Regions from separate parts of the Homo sapiens genome. Here region 1 is linked to region 2. The links come from fine-mapping of genetic effects on gene expression. Tissue or cell type: lung. Region 2 holds a variant in brackets; the other region holds the start of a gene. All regions are shown on one strand. Distances are between the middles of the regions.

Region 1 (5,226 bases), 34 kb before region 2:
CTGCCTGGAGCAGCTCAGCCAGGTGCTCTCTGGACTCTGCAGAGCCCTCAGAAAAACACAGAGCTTGAGGAGACCCTGATGTGTCATCTCCAGCATCCCCCAGGGTGGAAGGTACCAAACTGGCAGCTCTGGCTCAGCTCCTCATTCCACTGCTGGTCCACACCTTTTGGGGGTCCTCTTGCTTCCTAAAAGCAATTTACAGACGTTTCCCACACAGTCCTGCAAGGCACAGGCACAGTGCTAGTAACAGGCTCAACTCCTGCTCTGCAATGGAAATGCATGACCCCACCGCTCCTACCTTGTAGGATCCCACACAATTTGCATGGTGGCCTCTAAACCCACAGTCCTCAAAGTGGGGACCCAGGACCAGTAGCTTCAGCATCACCTGGGAACTTGTTGGAAATGCAAATTCTTGGGCCCCACCCCTTACCTATTGAATCAGCACTTTGGCAGTGGAGCCCAGCAGTCTTGCCTTCCAGGCAAGCAAGCCCTCCAGGTGAATCCACTCTCAACCTCACTTGTGTAGGAAATGGGTATCATCAATGTTTGGAAGCCAACCGTTGTTTTGGGGCTGAAAGGAAATAGTGCGTGTTCCTGGCAGGAAGATAAAGGCCAGTATGTAGCAGCTGCTGTTATCTCACCAGTAACGCATCATCATTCATGGCCATGGCTTTCTGAGCTTAAGCTGTTTGCCAAGAATGGAGCCACATACCCTCCTTCTTTCCCTCTTCCCCTCAGCTGAGCAGGGTCTCATGCTTCCAGATCCCCTGTGTTTCACTTCAGCTCCTTTAGCTAACCGAGTCTCGCTGCCCAAGGCCCATATTCCTTCTCTCATGAGCTGCTGGCTCTATCTGGTCCAGGAGGGTGAGTTCTTTCTTCCCTCTGGTCTTCAGGTTCCCCCTCCCAAGACCCAGCTTTTCTCTCTAGGTTTTCAGACCAACAGCACCCAGAGCCGATCCACTAACTCCTTCATCCTGGCCCCTCTCCCCACCCCAGGACCCCCAGCTGAATGCAATTCCTTATTACCTCCCACTCCTCCATCCTGATCAAAAGGTCATGTGACCAACCTTCTAGATTCTAGACACATCCGGGGGTGTGGGATAGAAGGCAGGTGTCCTTGAATCATGACCTAGCCTCAGCATCCCTCTAAATTAGTTGCATGTAACCCAATCTCCCCCACCTAGGCTTCACTGTGTTTCAATCTTTTTGAATAAAGCGGGCCATCTTTCTTTCTGTGTGTGACCTTGGAGTTACACATAAGCAGAATAGATGTGCATCTATTCTCCATCTAACAGGCTCAACAGACAATGCACTATTCCTCCTGTCAACAGACATTATTGACACTAGAGTCATAAAATGCATCTCCAAGATGGGGAAGTCAGTTCAAGAAAGAGTATCTGTATCACGAGTTTTCTCTTTACATTTCCAACTCCTTGGCTCTAGGGGTGTTGCCGCTACCCCTCATCTTCTAGGTTCAGGTGCTCAGCTCCTGTTTGTAGCCCCAGGACAAGACGTTACCTGGGAGATCTTTAGAAATGCAGAATCTCTCCCTATCCCACAACAGAATTGCACCTGCATAACCAGTGCCCCAGGTAGATCTGGCTGAGAAGCTATGATGAAGGGCAAGGTTTGCCAAATGTTCATGGGGACAAGTTCTCCAGCGACACTGGTTTAAAATAGGAATTCCGAAAAGGTCTGATTAATGAGTTTGGGGTGGAACCCAGGAAACTGGGCATTTATTTAAAACAATCTCTCCTGTGATTCTTAGAAAGTAAATTTATAATGGGGAGGGGTCAAAGATAAGCATCTGAAAACAATTTTCACGCAATGTGGAGCTTTGAGACAGCGTTAGTCTTCAGGTTCTTTTGTTGAATGGAATTTGTGGCATCTGGGAGTGGAGCAGAGACCACTTCCCAAACTCCTGTTCTTATTTTTTTAAATTCCAGCAATTCAGAAGGAATTAAAGTAAAAGACGTAAGTTCTCTGGTTGCTGATATCTGGTACCTGAGATCAAGGCAAGATCGCTTAAACCAGTAAAGTGAGGATTATGGGAGCAAACTCAGGAATAAAGAGGGTGAACCAGGCCTGGAAGGGGACACAGGTTTGGCGACCAGACGGGTCACCGCTTGGCCCGGCCTAATCCAACTGCGCACGTCGGTGGGCCACAGCATCGCAGCGCTGGATCCCCGGGTCGGCAGAGGCGGATGGAGTTCAGCCTCTTTTTCAAAACTGCCAAAGCCACCCGGTCTGCCAAACTCCCCCACCAGCCAGCTCTGGGGCAGCCCCCCGGAGCCCGCCCGCTCCGGTCCCCGGGACAAGGGCGCAATTGACCAGCGCGGGCCGCCTCTGGCCCACCCAGATGACGGCCAACTTTTTTTGTTTTTAAGCCATCAAATTCAATATTTACAGGAAAAACCCCATGCTTGGTTCTAAAACTACTGGCCACTCAAGAAACAGTTTACTTCTCACTTCTGCCCATAACAAGAAAAACATAGACTTGTGCCTTACTCTTAAAAAAATAATAATAATAAATATAGGTTTTTTAAAATTTATATATAATTTTTAAAACCCCGTTTGTTGCATGTGGTCCCTTTCCCTCCTGTTGTTGAGCAGAATAAAAGCCCATTTTGCCAGGGCCCGCAGTCCTGGCGGCCCCCGCAGCTGCGGCCCTGTAACTTTAAACCTGGCCTGAGATCATCGTTTTGGCGCCGGCCAAACAGAGCCCGAGGGCGGGCCTAGCGCGCCCGGACGGAGACCACCTTGCGGCCGACCCCGCTCCCCCGCCTCCTCGGGAGAGATAAATGCTGACTCCGCTCGGAAAGTTCTCAACTGCAAAGTTTGCTGTCCGGCTGCCTAGGGTCTGGGAAGCTCGGGCACCCTCCCTCTCCGGGGCTCCTGCTCCCACCCCTCCGGCCCCCCCACCGTCGCGCTCCTCCAGGCTGGGCCTGTGGCCGCGGTGCTTTTTAATTTTCCCCCAGCTCAGAATCTTGCTGCTCGGCCCCCAGGAGAGCAACAACTCAACGGGAACGATGTGGAAGGTGTCAGCTCTGCTCTTCGTTTTGGGAAGCGCGTCGCTCTGGGTCCTGGCAGAAGGAGGTAAGACCCAGCGCAAGTGGCTTCCTGCCGTCGCTGATGGGGACGAGCGAGCAGAGACTTGCTGGAATGCCCGGGCCTGGTATTCGAGGTTGTCCAGGGGAGCGCGGGGGAGCTGAGGGTGTGTGCGTGTCAGGCGGCTGAGCGCCGGAGGAGGAGAGGCAGCGGCTTAGTCGGTGCCAGGTCCCAAAGACGCAGCTGCGCGGGTGTGCCGGGAGGAGCCCCGGAATCCACAGGCTGCGAGGTGGGCAGCACAGGGGGCCTCCCTCCGAGTCGGCAGCACCAGAGAGATCGGGTGGAAGGTTCACAGTAGGCAGCCCCGCTTGCTGGCAGCAGTGGCTGGGGTTTCCTTCCCATAGAGCGGTGTGTTGGAGGAATACGCACGCCTCGGGAGAAGCTGGCCTCGTAGAATCAGGAGGGACGTTCAGGAGGGCTTGGGCCAAGGGGAGGGTTCCCCGCCCTGCGGTGGCCCTGGTCCCCCTTGGGACTACCTAGTCTGGCGCCCTGCCTGTTGGACACACTCAGCACCCCGTCACTGGACTGGAAGAGGCCTCCTTTATCCTCTTTAGAGAGGATAGTGTGTGTGGAAAGGATCCAAGTGGAGGCTTCCGAGGAGTGTGAGTGCATGAGGATTGTTACGCGTTACGAACATTGAGGTTTAAGTGGGTTTGAGCCACGTGTTCATCTTGGGCAACAACATCAGTGGCTGAATGTCTGTTGGTGACTCCTTAGGCTTTAAATATTTTGTATCCCATGTTGGGGTGGGGGCGTCCACAGCTTCCATTACCCTTTGTCCTCTCCTGGAGCCTTACCTCTTCCCGCTGGGTTGCTGTGTTGGTGGTCTCCATTGACATCTGTCAACATTTTGTTTTCTTTTCTTGGGTTTTTATTTTTATATTTCCTCAATAGAACATATGTTCTGCAGGACGCAGCTACATCCAGCCATGATTCCCCACGGCCAAAACAATGCCTGGCACATAGTAGTTGCTCACTAAATGTTGGTTGAAGGAATTGTAACCTAACTCGTGATCTTTGGGGCTGGAGGTTGCTGAGTTATGCTGTGAAAAGTAAACATTTTCCAAAAATTGAGGATCAAGGTAGGCCTAGGCCCTGAGGAATACTTCTTGGAGAGGGAGCGGTTTGCAGGAGGGGTGCGCCTAACCTGGCCTCCTACAATGGTCCACACAGACAAAAATACCCAATCTCAGGGAAATGACAGAGTTCTGCTCTATGCTGTGCTGTCTGCTTCAAAGGGACTGAGCAACTCTTTTTATAGGGGCCGTGGGTTATTCGTAGCAGTCCTATCTTTGGAACTTCTCTTTCCACTGGAATATATACAGTTCTGTATTTTCAGTTACATTTCCTTTTTGGCGAGACAATGTGCAAATGACACCGTTTTGTGCTCACCAGGGCAAAGCAAGGGAGCGCCCTCACTTCAGCATCTCAGCCCTGCTAAAGAAAAAGCTGCTGGGTAACATCCTTTGTTTTTGCCCAGGGAAGCTTTAGCTGTGATTCCCTTCAGCCGGCTCCTGAATGTCAAAGGTACTCCTAAAAGATGGCGTTAAAACCGAAAAACCATCGTTGGTGCTGGAAACTCCACTACTAAAGAAAGAAGTGGTATGCGGGGCTGGCTGAGTGAGGGTGGGTGCTGAGTTGCCTGGCTGCCAGAGGAGCAGAGGCCCAGCAGGGTTTTTGTCTGAGAATAATGAGCGAGGCGACTTGAATATGGATGAATAACATCATTGAGCGAAGCTATTGTGGGCTTTTGTTGGGGAGCTGGGCTGGGGGGTAATTATGGTGATGAATTTTATGATCCTTTTCATAAGATCCTACGCCCTACTGGGTTTCCCTCCTCCAGGGTTATAATCTGGTTCAGTTTTATAATCTGGTCCCATGTGTCATCCCTTTGGGTGTTAGTGGATTCAAAGGAGGTCTGTTGTCCACACATCTGGCATTTTTTTCCATTGTCAGGCGCCACCCTCATGCTGAACTTTCATCAGGAAGGCACGTTTTGGGGGCCACTTCATTAGAGAGTTTATTTTGTGAGATTCTGCAAGCTGCTGCTCGCTGCTAACCCACATGTGCTTTTCCGGGACCAATCCACCCAGGATTAATCATGCGGCCAACAAATTT
Region 2 (5,226 bases):
GCCTCTCAAGTAGCTGGGACTACAGGCATGCACCACCACACCTGGCTAATTTTTTGTATTTTTTAGTAGAGATAGGGTTTCACCATGTTGGCCAGGATGGTCTCAATCTCCTGACCTCGTGATCCACCCACCTCAGCCTCCCAAAATGCTGTGATTACAGGCATGAGCCACCGCACCCAGCCAAAAACCTTTTTCTTATATGAGTTGGAGGGATGATATATGATGGAAGGGAGGGGAGAGGACAAGTGATAAACACCTGGAGGGTTGAGGGATACAGGGGACAACACAGCTGTGGACTTAGCGTGTTTGGAAAAGCCAGGCAGTTTGACCCTGCTGTGTGAGGACGAAGGCATGGAGGAGGAATGTCAGGAACAAGAGATGATCACCAGGTGTCAGAACTTGGAAGATTTAGAGCAAAGGACAATAGGAAAAAGGACTCACGGAGTTACTATTCACAATGCCAGTAAGAGACACGACCGTCACCCTTCTCTATTTTCACAGGCCCTAAAGAGCTGAAGGGTTACGCCCTGCTGCCAACGTGCTTAAAAAAAGACCGTTTCTGACTCTGTGCCCTGTCCCTGAGCTCGTGGGAGAAGATGACCCGTGGAACACTTGCCTGGCCCACTCAGAATCCACGGTGACCTCTCCGCTTGCCAAAATAACCGAAGGAAAGACCGTTCACCAGACTTGGCTCCTCTAAACATTTGCTGTTCAAACATGTTTTTGAATATACATTCTATAAAAGATTATTTGAAAGACAAAATTCATAGAAAATGGAGCAAAACTGTATAAACTGATTTGTAACTAACACTGGACCATTGGATCGATATTATATGCTGTAACCATGTGTCTCCGTCTGACCATTCTTGTTATTGTTAAAATGCAGAGGAATCTGGAAATATTTATATCCACGGAGTCCTTGGATCCAGTGCTACGTCAGTAAATAGCACCAGCATTTTGCAATTGCTGATCTGCTGAAATGTACACATTCTGGTCTAGTTTGGTCTATCTTTTAAAGCCTGATCTGGTGTGAATAATCAACTAGGAAATCTAAACTTGGATAACACGTGGTGAACAACTGCCTTTAGCTGGTCCAGATTAATCATTTCAAAGACATCCATTTTAGATCACAAGCAGGAAGTCGATAGTCTCAAAGGCACTTTGTTTCTCCCAAGTAGGCCACCAGGCAGCCTCTAGAGTTGCTTTACCCAAATCCTTCTCCAGCCATGACTTGGTGACTCTAAGCTTGCTCCCACCTGCCCCCTCCACTTCCCTCAGATGATGAGGAGCCAGGGCTAAGGGGGCAGCCTTCTCTCTTCCCAGTGATGCACATCCTTCACATTGGCTGCTTTGTTCTGGAATATGGATATCTCAGCCTGGATGCCGAGGAAGCTGCTGGATGCTTAATGGTGCTAGAGGCTCAAGTGTGTTTGAAACCAAGAGCCAGTTGTCCCCCATGCAGAAAGAAATCCTGTGTGAGCCTCTGGTATGAGAAATAAAATCTGCCAGTTTTATAACATTCACTTTCTGCCTCTGAGGAAAGATACAGGGAACAAAAATCAATTTGTACAGTCTTAATATTAAAAGCAGCTTGACTAAATACCTGATTTAAAAATAGAAGACATCCCCAGTCCTCATGACATACCGCAAATATCTGTGGGGTCCTGTTGAAAAGAACAAAATAAAGGAGCCCAAGGGGTCATTCTGTCTCAGCACCATCCAGCCTGGCACTTCTCTTCCCATATATCCATTGGATTTTTTTTTTTTTTTCCTAAACAAAGTTTTTACACTGAGCAGATGCTCTGTCATGATGGCGGTTGTGCAATTCTGGTATCCTCTAAATTTGTAAGCATTCATAAAACAGGAAAAAGTAAACTATCATTCGGAAGCACAGCCCATTCCTCCCATTTTTTGCAATGATGTCTGGATGTTATTTTAAACAGTGTGTCTGTGTGTTCCCAAATCCAGCTGGCCCCACCAGCTCAGATTCCATTTTTTTTGTGTGTGTGTGTGAAACGTAGTCTGCAACTCTGCCTCCCGGCAATTATACATGTGTCAGGATGTCAAAAAGCAATTCTCCTGCCTCAGCCTCCTGAGTAGCTGGGACTACAGGTTCCTACCACCACACCCGGCCAATTTTTGTATTTTTAGTAGAGATGGGGTTTCACCGTATCGGCGAGGATGATCTCTATCTCTTGACCTCGTGATCTGCCCGCCTCGGCCTCCCAAAGTGCTGGGATTACAGGCGTGTGCCACTGCGCTCGGCCTCAGATTCCATATTTGAACACCAGCTGATTGAGAGAAGGGGAATGAGAAGAGCTGGATGAGTTTAAATAACTCATTGTTCAGATTCCTGAACAGGAGTTGGGATAATGGCCATCTTTTCTTTCCTATCCTTTCTTCCCCCCTCACTGTGAAAAATAACAGTCCACCCCAAGTCATACACTGGACCCAGTGCCTGCGGGGACAGGACTGTGGGTTTCTTGGTCACACCTGTGTTGGTGCTCAATGCAGTGTAGACATGTTTTCAAATAAAACAAATGATTGTGTACAACAATGAGTCAGACTTTTGTTGGAAAACACAAGTCTGGGCCACACTTGGGAACATCTCCAGATAAGATTACAACTTAGGTAAATGCCTGCCTGTTGCCTTGCTTGAGAGTGGATTA[T/C]AGATGGCCAGGGGAATGAATTCCACAGGAGGAAAACACACCTACACCTTTCAGCTAGGTCTGCCAAAGTAGAGAGGTCAAGTAGAAGCATGGGCATGGGAGACACGTGGCACCTGGGGGCTCTCTCCCTCTCTGGTCCCAAAGGGTTAATGAGGTTTTCCCTGATTTTTTCTGTTTTGTTTTGAGATGGAGTCTCGCTCTGTCGCCCAGGCTGGAGTGCAGTGGCGCGATCTCGGCTCACTGCAGCCTCCACTTCCTGGGCCCAAGCAATTCTGTCTCAGCCTCCCAAGTAGCTGGGACTATAGGCGTGCACCACCACACCCACCTAATTTTTGTATTTTTAGTAGAGACGGGGTTTCACCACATTGGCCAGGATGGTCTTGATCTCCTGACCTCGTGATCTCTCCCTGCCTCGGCCTCCGAAAGTGCTGGGATTACAGGTGTGAGCCACTGTGCCCAGCCACCTGATTAATTTCTCAGCACTGGAGGGTAAAACCAGGTGAGGGGGCAATTTCATCTTGCCCCTGCTAGTCCTCCCTAGAAACCTCACCTCAGGAGAGGTGAATCCCTGTTGCTGGGGGACGCCCCACGGTTCCTTGCTCACCCCGACTCTGTCTGGAGATTGCCCTGGCCAGCTCCTGGGTGGGTGCTGCAGATCTCCTCCTCCCGACCCCACCGCACCACTCCATGTGGATTTATCCTCCTGATGCGGGTCCCTTCCCTGCCAGCGTAAGGATCAGGTGCTAGGAGCGGGAGAGCAGTTAGCCCCATGACTTCCTCGAAATAAATATTCAATATTGTTAAATTAGGACTGTTGAATTTGTCCGTTGTCAGTAATCCTGGGTGCCCATTTGAGTTCCAAACAAGGAACCATATTGTATGCCTGTAGTTCCAGCTGTTTGGGAGGCTGAGGTGGGAGGATCGTTTAAGCCAGGAGTTCAAGGCCAGCCTGGGCAACAAAGTGAGAGCCCCATCTCTTAAAAAATGGACCAGGGTTCTAGTCCTGTTCTGCTCCTCCACACCTGTAACCCTTCAGGGAAGTCATTTAACTTCTTTGGGCTGCAGTTTCTTCTAAGAACTTTCATGAGATGTCAGAAAGCATCCCTTTTCTAGCAGGAAACTAACCACGTCTACCTAGTCCAACAGATTGAAAGAGAACGGACCCTCAACTATGTTACATGTAAATTTACATTCCATTACATGCCACCCCCAGGAGATGACTGGAAACTGGGGGAGCTGCCAGGGTTCTGAAAGTTTAGGGAAACAGCTCTATCAGAGACATCTGGGAGCAGGGGGTGCTGAGGTTAGCTCTTTGCATGATATAAAGGCCTTGTTTTTAACCCCTACTTTTTCCCCTCAACCTGGGAAAACCAGTTGAAAAACCAGGGCTTAGTTCTGCTTCATGGGCCACCTTCAAGGCTTGGCTTTCATGAATAGGAAAGAGCAAGGAACTGTTAATCCCTTTGCTGTCTCTATTTTTATTTTAATTCAGATTTATTTAGTATTCAGGGCATGGGGCAGTTTGTGACATGCTTCGATTGGGGAATGGTGCACGTTTTGATATTAAAACTTTTGCCAATTAAAAGTCCATTGGAAGTGGAAAAAGAATCCTCCCCAAAATATAGCTGCATGTTAACACATGCACTAAAAATAGAGTCATCCCCTTGTGTGCGCTGGAGGACTTGTTCCCTGAAACATTGCCTTTTTCTTTGCTCTTCCTGAAGCTTAAAATCGGGTTAGAACATATAATAGATCCTGGATTTTTCAACTCAGTAAATATAAATGATGTAAGTGTGGTTATTGGTCAACAATGCAGAATGAGTCTAAAATCACACTCACTGGTGTGAATGGGAGTTTTTTTGGCTCAGGGGCCCAGCATGCAGGTACGTACCTGGTACAGGCAAAGCCAGCCTGAAAGCACTAAACACTATTCCTCAGCACTGTTTCTTACTCTGAGATTATTTTATCAGATGCTGACTCAAAGCACAGCGTGTTCTATTTCTACATCCAAGGGCTCCGGGCCATAGTACAGACAGTCCTATGCGTGGTTCTGAGACCTTGCTCCTCCTCCCATTTTTTCTTTCCTACCTCCTTCTCTACTGCTGCCTCTGCCTTTCCACTGATGCAAATTTTTGAGAAAACAATCACGTGCTGGTCACATACCAGGGCGATCAGCAAATGTTTCTGAAGTGACGGCTTCCCTCTGGATGCTGCTGAAGTAGTCAAAGAGGTCGTCTGAAATATTTGTTTGAATAAATGAGCTTACGGTCCTCCGCATGTAACCTCAGGAAGGTGTGCAGGTGTCCTGACCGAAGCAGGAGGTGGACCCCTTCCTGTTGCTCCTGTTCCCACCCTTCCACAGAGCATCTGTAGGTGAGGCTGGATCTGTGGATGGCCCAGGGCTCACTGGAAAGGGAGTAGGATTCTTGTCCAGCAAGATCCAGAAACAAAAGACACTCCCTTGGGTATAACTGCTGAAGAACTCTCATGGGACAGGAGTAATCTGTTCCTTCATTTATTTATTCATTCAAATATTTATGTTCAGGCCCGTCCCAGG

The links. PIP is the estimated chance that this variant, and not a neighbour inherited with it, causes the effect.
Region 1: it holds the start of PDPN, and the variant in region 2 is fine-mapped to the expression of PDPN in lung (TOPMed, PIP above 0.99).

The regions. Positions count from the first base shown.
Region 1 is chr1:13,581,005-13,586,230 of GRCh38, forward strand. It overlaps PDPN (podoplanin), which reads left to right and starts at 2,828. Exons shown (of 6, transcript NM_006474.5): 1 at 2,828-3,096. The coding sequence starts at 3,030. RefSeq lists an enhancer at 2,731-3,269.
Region 2 is chr1:13,615,404-13,620,629 of GRCh38, forward strand. PDPN (podoplanin) reads left to right here. Exons shown (of 6, transcript NM_006474.5): 6 at 502-2,554. The coding sequence ends at 508. Among named protein-coding and RNA genes, the nearest start is that of PDPN, 34 kb to the left of the region's middle. The variant T/C (reference allele first, on the strand shown) is at 2,670.